3 linked regions of the Homo sapiens genome follow. The protein of the gene in region 2 interacts with the protein of the main gene of each other region in a pairwise test. Each region holds a gene or a part of one and is shown on either strand. Other genes may lie near its edges. The genes, in order: KRCC1, SPANXN2 and EPB41L3.

Region 1 (2,539 bases), on a different chromosome or scaffold from region 2:
AAACTTTTAAATTTTTTTAACTTTTTGACTATTTTGTAATCACACTTAGGTTAAAACACATTGTCCAGCTGCACAAAAATATTTTATTTCTTTATATCTTTATCCTAGCCTTTTCCTATTTTATTCTTAACTTTTTTTTTATTTTTATTTTTTTATTTTTTTGAGATGGAGTCTCACTCTGTTGCCCAGGCTGGAGTGCAGTGGCACGATCTCGGCTCACCGCAACCTCTGCCTCCTAGGTTCAGGCGATTCTCCAGCCTCAGCCTCCCAAGCAGCTGGGATTACAGACATGCGCCACCATGCCCAGCTAATTTTTGTATTTTTAGTAGAGTCGGGGTTTCACGATATTGGCCAGGCTGGTCTCGAACTCCTGACCTCAAGTGATCCACCCACCTGGCCTCCCAAAGTTCTGGGATTACAGGCATGGGCCACCACACCTGGCCCTATTTTTTTTTTTCACTTGTTAAACTTTTTTATGAAAAGCTAAGACACAAACACACACATTAGCCTAAGCCTTCACAGGGTTCAGGATCATCATCACTGTCTTCTCCCTCCACATCTTGTCCCACTGGGGGGTCTTCAGGGGCAGTAACATGCATGGAGCTGTCATCACCTATGGTGCCATCTTCTGGAATACCTTCTGAAGGACCTTCCTGAGGCTGTTTTACAGTTAACTTTTTTTTTTAATAAGGAGAAAGAATATACTCTAAAATAATTTAAAATATAGTATAGTAAATAAATCATAAACCAGTTATCAAATCTTATGTACTGTACATAGTGTATGCTATACTTTTATATGGCAGTATAGTAGATTCGTTTATACCAGCATCACTACAAACACATGAATAATGAATTGTGCATTATTCACATTACTGTGACTTTTTCAGCTCCACTATAATTTTATGGGACCACCATCATATATTCAGTCCATTGTTGACCAAAAGATTATTATGCAGTGCATGACTGTATCTCCTTTTCCTTTAAGGAAATACCTAGAAGTAGAATAACTGCATCATATGGGGTAAATGTATGTTTAACTTCTTAAGAAACTGCCAAACTGTTTTTCAAGTGGTTGTACCATTTTACATTCCTATCAACAATATTTGAGAGTTCCAGATCCTTATCAGCACTGGTATTGTCAATCTTTTTCATTTTAATCATTCTGGTAAGTGCATAGTGGTATCTCATTGTGGTTTTAATTCACATTTACTTGCTGATCAGTGCTTTTAAACATCTTTTCATGTGCTTATTGGCCATTTGCATATATTCTTTTCTGAAGTATAGGTTAAAATAGTTTGCCCATATTTAAGCAAGTATTTGTTACATTATTTTTTATTATTTTTCTAGTCAGAATTTGTATACTATTTAAGTTGAACAAGAACTATATTTTCTAACTTGCCAAATTAGGCTTCATTTAGATTTTCTTTTTAACCTCAAATTTCCAAATTTGAAAAACTGGCTGATCATTAGTCTCAAAAAATTAGGAGGGAGTATATCCCATGTTGAACTGAACATTTCTTCCCTTTAGCAGAAACAAGCCTTGTTTCTGAGAGCTGAAGAAATGTTCAGTTCTACATGGGATATATGCCCTCCTAATTTTTTGAGATAAACTGTATCACCAAAAATATATAGGGCAGGTGGGACACAGTGGCTCACACCTGTAATCCCAGCACTTTGGGAGGCCGAGGCAGGCAGATCACCTGAGGTCAGGAGTTGGAGACCAGCCTGGCCAACATGGTGAAACCGCATCTCTACTAAAAATACAAAAATTAGCCAGGCGTGGTGGTGTGCACCTGTAGTCTTAACTACTCAGGAGGCTGAGGCAGGAGAATCACTTGAACCCTGGAGGCGGAGGTTGCAGTGAGACGAGATCGTGCCATTGAACTCCAGCCTGGGTGATAGGGCAAGACTCCATCTCAAAAAAAAAAATATATATATATATATTTTTTTATATATATATAATATTATAATTTCATAGTAAGTACATTTTCTGCTATATTTGTATTTATTCAGGATTTGAGGTGAGGAAAAGAATCAGGAACAGTCTTGCCCTTCCCCCCAAAAAAGAATCAAGCAAACAAAAATGGTGTATCTACTGCAAGTTTCTTCTGAAACTCTTCTCCAAATCAGTCCTATCCCTTTTCAGTTTTCACCCCTGTTTCTTCCCTTATTCCTCTCACCAGTACTTTAAGAGAGAACAAACCAGAAGACATTCTAGAATGCTTTTTTCACCAATCAGAAGTAGTGGAATGAAATCCAAGCCTACACAGAAGATACAGAACTCTGTGCTTTCATCTTCCCTCATACCTGATACCTAAAAGTAGTTTTCATCTTATAACTGAATTTCTGATTTTCAGCATTCCCAATCAATTTTATAAACATCCTTTTATTGTTAAGTCTTACAGTACTCTCGTCAGGTGAGTACGTTTATTTTATCTTGAGTAAACTGAAGATTTTAAAAATCAAATTCTGTATCTGTGGTTCCTTTACTTCTCTTAGAAACTAATATACAGGAAACCAATTCATGAGAACTTCAGAA
Region 2 (3,841 bases):
TGTACCCTTCAACCAGTCTCTCCCAATAGTAAAATCTTCAATACACTACCACATTACACTATCAAAACTAGAACATTGACAGTGATGCAATCCAGAGCTTTTTAAGATTCAACACTTTTCTTTTGACTATTCTAGGCACTTTATATTTCCATAGGAATATTATAATTATCTTGTCAATTTCTATTAAAAAGGCTTTTTAGAATTTTGATTAGAATTTAGTTGAATCCACAGATGAAATTGGAAATAACTGCCATTTTACAATATTGAATCTTCCAACCGAAAATCAAAGTATAGATCTCAATTTTTTTCTTATGTCATTAATTTATCATTGTAAATTTTTGTAGTTTTAAGTGTACAAGTCATTTACATCTTTGGTCAGATTTATCCCTAAGCCTTTAATATTTTTAGTGATATTTTAAATTGCACTGTTCTTAGTTTCAACTTTCAGTTGTTGAAATTAACTTCCAGTCCACCCTAGGACTACCATTGGCTAAAACATTGTCTCTTCTAATATAGAAACTTCTCATATGTAACTGCTAATATATAAACATACAATTGATTTGTGTGTTGATCTCTTACTTTGCAATTTTGCTAACCTCAATTAATGTAGAACCATTTTTTTAGATTGACTTTTCTACATATACTCTCAGGTAGTCTTTGACAAAAGATACTTTTACTTCTCCCTTTCCAATCTGAATGCATTTTTTTTTCTTTTACACTGGACACAATCTCCAGTACAAAGTATAACTGTGCCCATACTGGTGCACATGTGGGTCTTAGATTGTAGCATCCTGCAGGTAAATACTCAGAACAACTTCCAGCACTTGAATATCCACTCCTTCCCCCACCCACATACTGGCAGAATTCATGTTGGGATACTACATTTACTATGAACATAGACCCCTGATTTGAAACAAGACTAGGATACATGGTAAAGAAAGTTTATTCACCAAAGTTTTGACAGACTGAAGGCCATTATTTCAGATTGGAGATAGGAAACTTAAAAGAACTACATGGACATTGGGTAAAAGAACATGGGTTGAAATTTGCCTGGCAGTAGCCTAAAAGTAAATGGTCTTCAAGGTGCATGTGAAGGAACTGTAGGAGGGAAATGGGATAATTCACATCTCCACCAATAATTAAATGTAGCCACACTAGCTTGGAGGGATTTGAGGTGAGACATCTAAAATACTAAGTCATGGTGAGGGCTGGAAGACAAAAGAATGAATGACTTCATAGGAATGACTGTGGGGAAGGGCTTGAAGGAATCATCCTCTCACTTCCATGTGAACCATGAACATTAAACATGGAGAAATGAGCAGCAGCAGATTAGTTTGGGATGCATCTTCAGGGGATGCTGAAACAACAACAGCATTTGGTTTCCTCTACACCCCTGTCATCCGTCCCCCACAAGCCCAGGGAGTGGTCAGCAGTGGTGCTTTGTGATGTCTAAGCCACCCTAGGACTGCCATTGGCTGGGACACTGCCTGTATGATCAAACAAAGCTCAAGAGTGTGGCTTTGCCTTGCCACCAGGAAGGTATACATAGGGAGGGCCAGAGCTCTGGGACATCCTCCTGGCAAGCTTCAATATAGCTGTGGAAGTCTGCAGTCTACAAGAGCCTACTATAGACATTCTACAACCAAGCAGAATCATGGAACAGCCGACTTCAAGCACCAATGGGGAGAAGAGGAAGAGCCCCTGTGAATCCAATAACAAAAAAAATGATGAGGTAAGATTGTTAGGTTTTGAAGGGAAGGTGAGGGTGAAAGAAAGACACACAGAGAAGGGACGGCTCAAACAGCAACACAGGAATACTGCAGACACCTGTGGAAGTGGGGGACCCGCTTAATGCCAGAACCCACCGCCGCTTACAGGCTGGGGTGCTTATAGGTATGGGTGGGAGGGGCCGGGGCAGTATGGCTTGCTGCCCGGCAGGATATTGATAAGATGTTTTTATGATCAGGCTGTTTGGTCCTTTTTCCAGTGGGATGTCATTGTGGTGTTTCTTGGAACTTTGCCCAGCAAGATACCATAGGAAAGTTTCTTTAGTTGGACCTGTGTCCGCCTTGTGTTACGACGATTAGGCAAGATTTTTCTCATGGCCCGAACCCCCGTGGAATGTTTCACTTTGATCAAGGTCTGCAAAATAGCAGGGTGCTTACTAAATGGTGGTTTGGACTCACATTCTTGCCTTCTACTTTAGTATAAAAGGAAGAGGGGCATTGTTGATTATCTGGCTGCTTGCTGCCGAATAGGGGAGCTGTAATCAGGGTTTGGGTTTTGAAGCAGGGGGTGACGGACTTCAGAGTTGTTTTCCTGGAGGCACTGGTACCGGACTTGGCAGAGGAGAAGGATGGTATCAATGTGTTGCTGGGTGGCTGCCTGGAGAGGGGAGTTTAGCCTTCGGGAGATAAAGCAGGATATGAAGGTGAGTATACATCGGCCAAATGTACTATCAGGAGGAGGAAGATTAACGGCCCTAAGAAAGGGACCACCTGCTATCCCAGTGCTGAGTGCATCAGAGATGTTTAGTTCTGCTAACACTAGAATGAGATGTACAGCCTGCTTAGTGTGTGTGGAGGAAGATGAGACAGAAGCTACTAAAGGAACCTGGATGGTCTGCTTGTTAGGCAAAGTGTTAATGTTTAGATTGAAACACAAGGGTGCATGTTCCTGACCAATTGGCCAGTAGGCAGAGATAAGAGTTTGTGCCGCAAAGGAAGAAGACACTAGGGGTGGACAGACAAAAGTTGTAGGTTATGGTGGCAAGTCATGAGAAGGTGGGGGTTGAATTCTGCACAAACCCTTTGTTTTAACTTTTATGTTTTTCCAAGTTGAATACCTGCCAGCAAGGGTAGCCCCTCTGAAGGCCTGATAGGAAATGTTGGTAGTGGAGGAGGTGAAGGCTGTTTGGTTTTGGAGAGAGAGCAGGAAATGGGTTTTTGTAACTAATAGCCATTGCGGTCCTGACAGCGCAGAAGGATACAGGTTGCAGTTGAGGGAATTGTTTGTGGATATTTTCCAGGGAGCGCCCTTGACTTGGATACATGGAGAGCGGCTCCGGCAGAAAGGGGAGGGGTTGATAAGAGGTATTTTCTGGAATCCGACTGGTAACATGTTTAGTTAAGAGGCTATGAGGTGAAGGAGGGTGACAGCCCTGTGTGTGACGGTGTGGGTGGATTTGATGGATTGGTGGGGGGGGAAAGGTGATTAGCCGAGCAAGATTATAAGCAGGTTTTGCGAATGAATTGGTCAATTAGGTGAAATGCAGGTTTATTTTGGACAGGGTTCATGTGGCCAGGTTAACAGGAAGGGCTGTGAACTACTGGATTTGTGTGGACAAACAAATTTAACAGTTGGAAGGAAGAGGGGAGTGTGACTGATTTAAGAGGCAGTGAGGCTGATGAAGGGGGCTCATCTGTTAGACGTTCGGGGTGGGGACTTAGAATATCCCACAGATAGAGAGGACAAAAGGAGAAAGAGGAGATTTGAGTAGGAGTGAAATTTTGGAAGGTGCCCTGAAGTCATATCTCCTTGATTAGTGTGACAAATTGGCCTGGACTATTCAGGGTCATGGGGAAGGGAAACCAGGAAAGATCTGAAATAAAGTAGGAGACAAAAGATTGGAAACTGGAGACAGAGAGTGTTATGGACTAAGGTGTTCTGGATTGGCAACTTCTGGAATTCTTGTTAAGTACAGTGAGGTTGGTCTTGTCAGGGAAGGAGAATAATTTGGGGGTGAACAAATTTCTAGATGTGGATCTGGTGCTCTTTTTAGTTTGAAATGTGCATTCAGTGTGCAAAGGATGTTAGCTTTGGCGCTGTGGGAGTAGTTAGC
Region 3 (3,741 bases), on a different chromosome or scaffold from region 2:
GAGACCAGCCTGGCTAACACAGTGAAACCCCGTCTCCACTAAAATACAAAAAATTAGCAAGGCGTGGTGGCGGGCGCCTGTAGTCCCAGCTCCTTGGGAGTCTGAGGCAGGAGAATGGCATGAACCTGGGAGGCGGAGCTGGCAGTGAGCCGAGATCTCGCCACTGCACTCCAGCCTGGGTGACAGAGCGAGACTCCGTCTCAAAAAAAAGAAAAAAGAAAGAAAAAAAGAAACCCAAGCATTCTGAGTCCAAGGCCAGGTTTCTTTGCTCTATGCTAAACATTTTCTTCAACCTTAGTACTATTTATTTATATTATATCTTCTTTCCAGGTTAAACGCTCATTTGACAATAGTGAAGAAGCTGGAAAGTCATTAAGACAAAAGTCGTTAAGACAGTGTGTCTCAAAATGTGGTCCTGGGACCACCTGGATCAGATTTCACCAAAGTACTTGTCGGGACATAAGGAGGTCTGGATCCAACTGCAGATCTATTAGATGATAATCCGTGGATTGGTCCCCAAAAATTCCTTTTTAATAAACTCATCAGGTAATTCTGTTGTATAACCACTGTGTCTCATTCTTTGCAAACCTCTACTGTTATCTGGAGTTTCATACTCAAAAAATTCTGCATTCTCATAGAGGGCCATCTTTTGGATTACGGGTTTTGTGGTGGAATGTCACAAAATTCTACACTCATCCTGAGGGTCATCTTTGGATCTTACAATTACTAAGACATGTCCCTAAAAACAAGCAAAGAGGACAACAGCATATACTACTGAAATGAGAAAACATGTACTATGTGTATACTCTCATTAGACTGGTTCTAGATGTCTTCAAACACAGATCTCATTTCAACCTGGAGGTAGGCAGCATCGTCATCTGTTCACTCTGGGGAACCTTGCCTAGAGAAATAGAGTACTCCTCCCACAGTTACCTAGCTCAAGGTTAGCAGATGTTTCCATCTGTATCTTCTCTAGCTCTTTGTATTTTCTTTATTCTGCAACAAGGATTCCCCACCACTGGGCCAAGGACAGTGGTGGTGAGCGGTGGGTGAGTCAGCATTACCACCTGATCTCCGCCTCCTGTCAGATCAGAAGTGGCATTTGATTCACATTCTTGAGTGAGAATGTGAGAATGTGAACCGCACACGTGAGGGATCTAGGTTGTGCATTCCTTCTGAGAATCTGATGATGTGAAGTGGAACAGTTTCTTCCTGAAACCATCCCCCACAACCCCCGTCCATGGAAAAACTGTCTTCCATGAAACCCCAACCTCTGTGCCAAGGACAGGGCCACACAGCAGGAGGTAAGCAAAATGGAGGTCCTTGGTGCTAAAAAGGTTGGGGACCCCTGTTCTACAATATAACTCCCCCCAATGAATTACTGCTCTCATTTCAAGAATTCAGAGGAAAAGTTTTCCAGACTTCTTGAGCAGACAACCTAGTCAATCTCTATTTTCCAAGTCTTATACTTAGCCAGTAAGCATATTCCTTCTAAAGTTAATAAAAGTTGTCACTGAGTAGCACAAAATGGTATAAAACACCAAAATTCATCAAGAATAATTCTCTGTAATGAAACTACCCAAAACTCCCTATATCTCTGGGATGTTAGTAACTCTAGGAAAAAATTACGTAGAAATATGCAACTGTCCGGGCCAGCCTGAGACCTCTAGATGCCCCGATGGCATCATCTCACAGAAGCCTGGGTGCACCATTCCAGCTAGCACCACCTTCAGGATCATAAAGCTATTCTCCCCAAATTGGTGAATGAAGACTGGATTCCAAGTAAATCCAAGATCAGTCAAAATCATGGGATTGTGAATAACATAACAGAGCAGCCCACATCCCTGACGAGGTGGCATAAAATCTGTGAATGGAATATGACATTTGTTACCATTCTGTTGTTGAGGACGAAGGAAGGGTTGGGAACTCAGAGAGAGATCAAAGGAAGCTTAATATTTTCCATCTCTGGGAGCCCAGTGACCCCGTACACCTACTAAACTATCCCAGACCCTGGATATTTTGATTCTGGAGAGTCTAGTTCAGGTCCAGACTGCTGCATCTGCTGTCCCTCGAGGCATGCCAAGAGGCACATGGGAGAATGATGGGCACCCAGGAACTCAGGTTAGGCTTTGCTGGATGAGCTCGCCCCTCTATAAAGAGATGACATTAAAATCTAAATTTAAAAAAGTCAGGAAATCTATGGTGAAAATTTGCTTGTTTTAGTTTGTTAGAACTCAATATTCACACACAACATTGAGATATACATAATAATCATCAGAGATTTTAATTTTTTTAAATATCCTGTTTTACCACAAGCCTCCTGATGTGTATATTAGAAGAGAGTCATGAAGTGTAGGCAGCAAGCAGAAGGAGGCAGAGGGGCTGGACAACAAGGCTTCACATCAACACCATCATTAAGGTAATGATCCTTTATCAATATTGCACAAGACCAAAAGAAAATATTTATTTACCATTAAAAATAATGATGTGGGTATAGATTTGCATGCATGAAAAAGCTCCTCCGAGACATACTGTTACATTTAAAAAAAAAAAAAATTTGGCCTGGTGCGGTGGCTCACACCTGTAATCCCAGCACTTTGGGAGGCCAAGGCGGGCAGATCATTTGAGGTCAGGATCATTCGAGACCAGCCTTGCCAACGTGGTAAAACCCCATGTCTACTAAAAATTCAAAAAAAAAAAAAATAGCTGGGCAGGGTGGCGGTTGCCTATAATCCCAGCTACTTGGGAGGCTGAGGCAGGAGACTCGCTTGAACCTGGGAGGCTCACTTGAACCCGGGAGGCAGAGGTTGCTGTGAGCTGATATCGTGCCACTGCACTCCAGCCTGGGCAACAGAGTGAGACTCTGTTCTCAAAAAACAAACAAACGAAACAAACAAACAAAAAATGGTTACATAGAAGTATTTAAGACAGAAGTCTATTCATGTAAAATATTATGTAATCTACATATGAGTCTGTATATGTACAAAATGATGCTACTGCTATTTATGAAGCACTTGTGATATACCAGATACTGTGCTCAGTGTTTGCATGTATTACATCATTTAATCCTCATATCCTTCAGATATAAGCATTATGCCCATTTTATAAACGAGCAAACAGGCTCTAGGAAGTTAAAAGAACCATGCCACATAGTTATTAAATAGCAAGGCCGAGAGCCCAACCCAGGTGTGTCCTATTCCACTCTGATACGTAATACATTCAGAAAGGTAGATAATGACATTGCCTTTTTTGGTTTTTCTGTATTGTTAGACTATATTTTAAAGTGAGAATGTATTATTTTTAATATCTCAAATAACTGAGATACATTCATTGAAAGGATAAGGAAAATCTTCCCATATTTCGTATATCTCATTTTCTACCTTAAACAATCCAAAAGTAGTATTTAATCCTCAGTTAAATACTCCCACAAAAAGATGGAATGAATTGCCAAAATATCAATCATTGAGAGAAAAAAACATCACATTCAATTTCTGCAAAATTTTGGATAACTCCATTAACTAAAGACCATCTGTCTCCAGATTCCTATTCTTCCAACTCATCCTACACTTATCACCAGAAAAAATATTCTTCTTCCCTACTCAACCACTTTCAATAACTCCCCACTACCTAGCAAAGCCCCAAATATCCCTTAGTCTCATATCCAAAAACCTTCCACAATCAGGCCTCACACTCCCTACTTAGATGCACCTCCCATTACTCCCCAGCATACAGGCTATATTC

What was found.
Region 1: the proteins of SPANXN2 (region 2) and KRCC1 interact in binary tests that used the Homo sapiens proteins (3 or more experiments, as listed by UniProt).
Region 3: the proteins of SPANXN2 (region 2) and EPB41L3 interact in binary tests that used the Homo sapiens proteins (3 or more experiments, as listed by UniProt).

What each region holds. Positions count from the first base shown.
Region 1 is NC_000002.12:88,029,245-88,031,783, reverse strand, and holds part of KRCC1 (lysine-rich coiled-coil protein 1), read left to right. Parts: intron 1-2,539.
Region 2 is NC_000023.11:143,718,482-143,722,322, reverse strand, and holds the start of SPANXN2 (sperm protein associated with the nucleus on the X chromosome N2), read left to right. Parts: upstream 1-1,570; 5' UTR 1,571-1,654; coding exon 1,655-1,732; intron 1,733-3,841.
Region 3 is NC_000018.10:5,533,961-5,537,701, forward strand, and holds part of EPB41L3 (band 4.1-like protein 3), read right to left. Parts: intron 1-3,741. UniProt on the Homo sapiens protein: Tumor suppressor that inhibits cell proliferation and promotes apoptosis. Modulates the activity of protein arginine N-methyltransferases, including PRMT3 and PRMT5.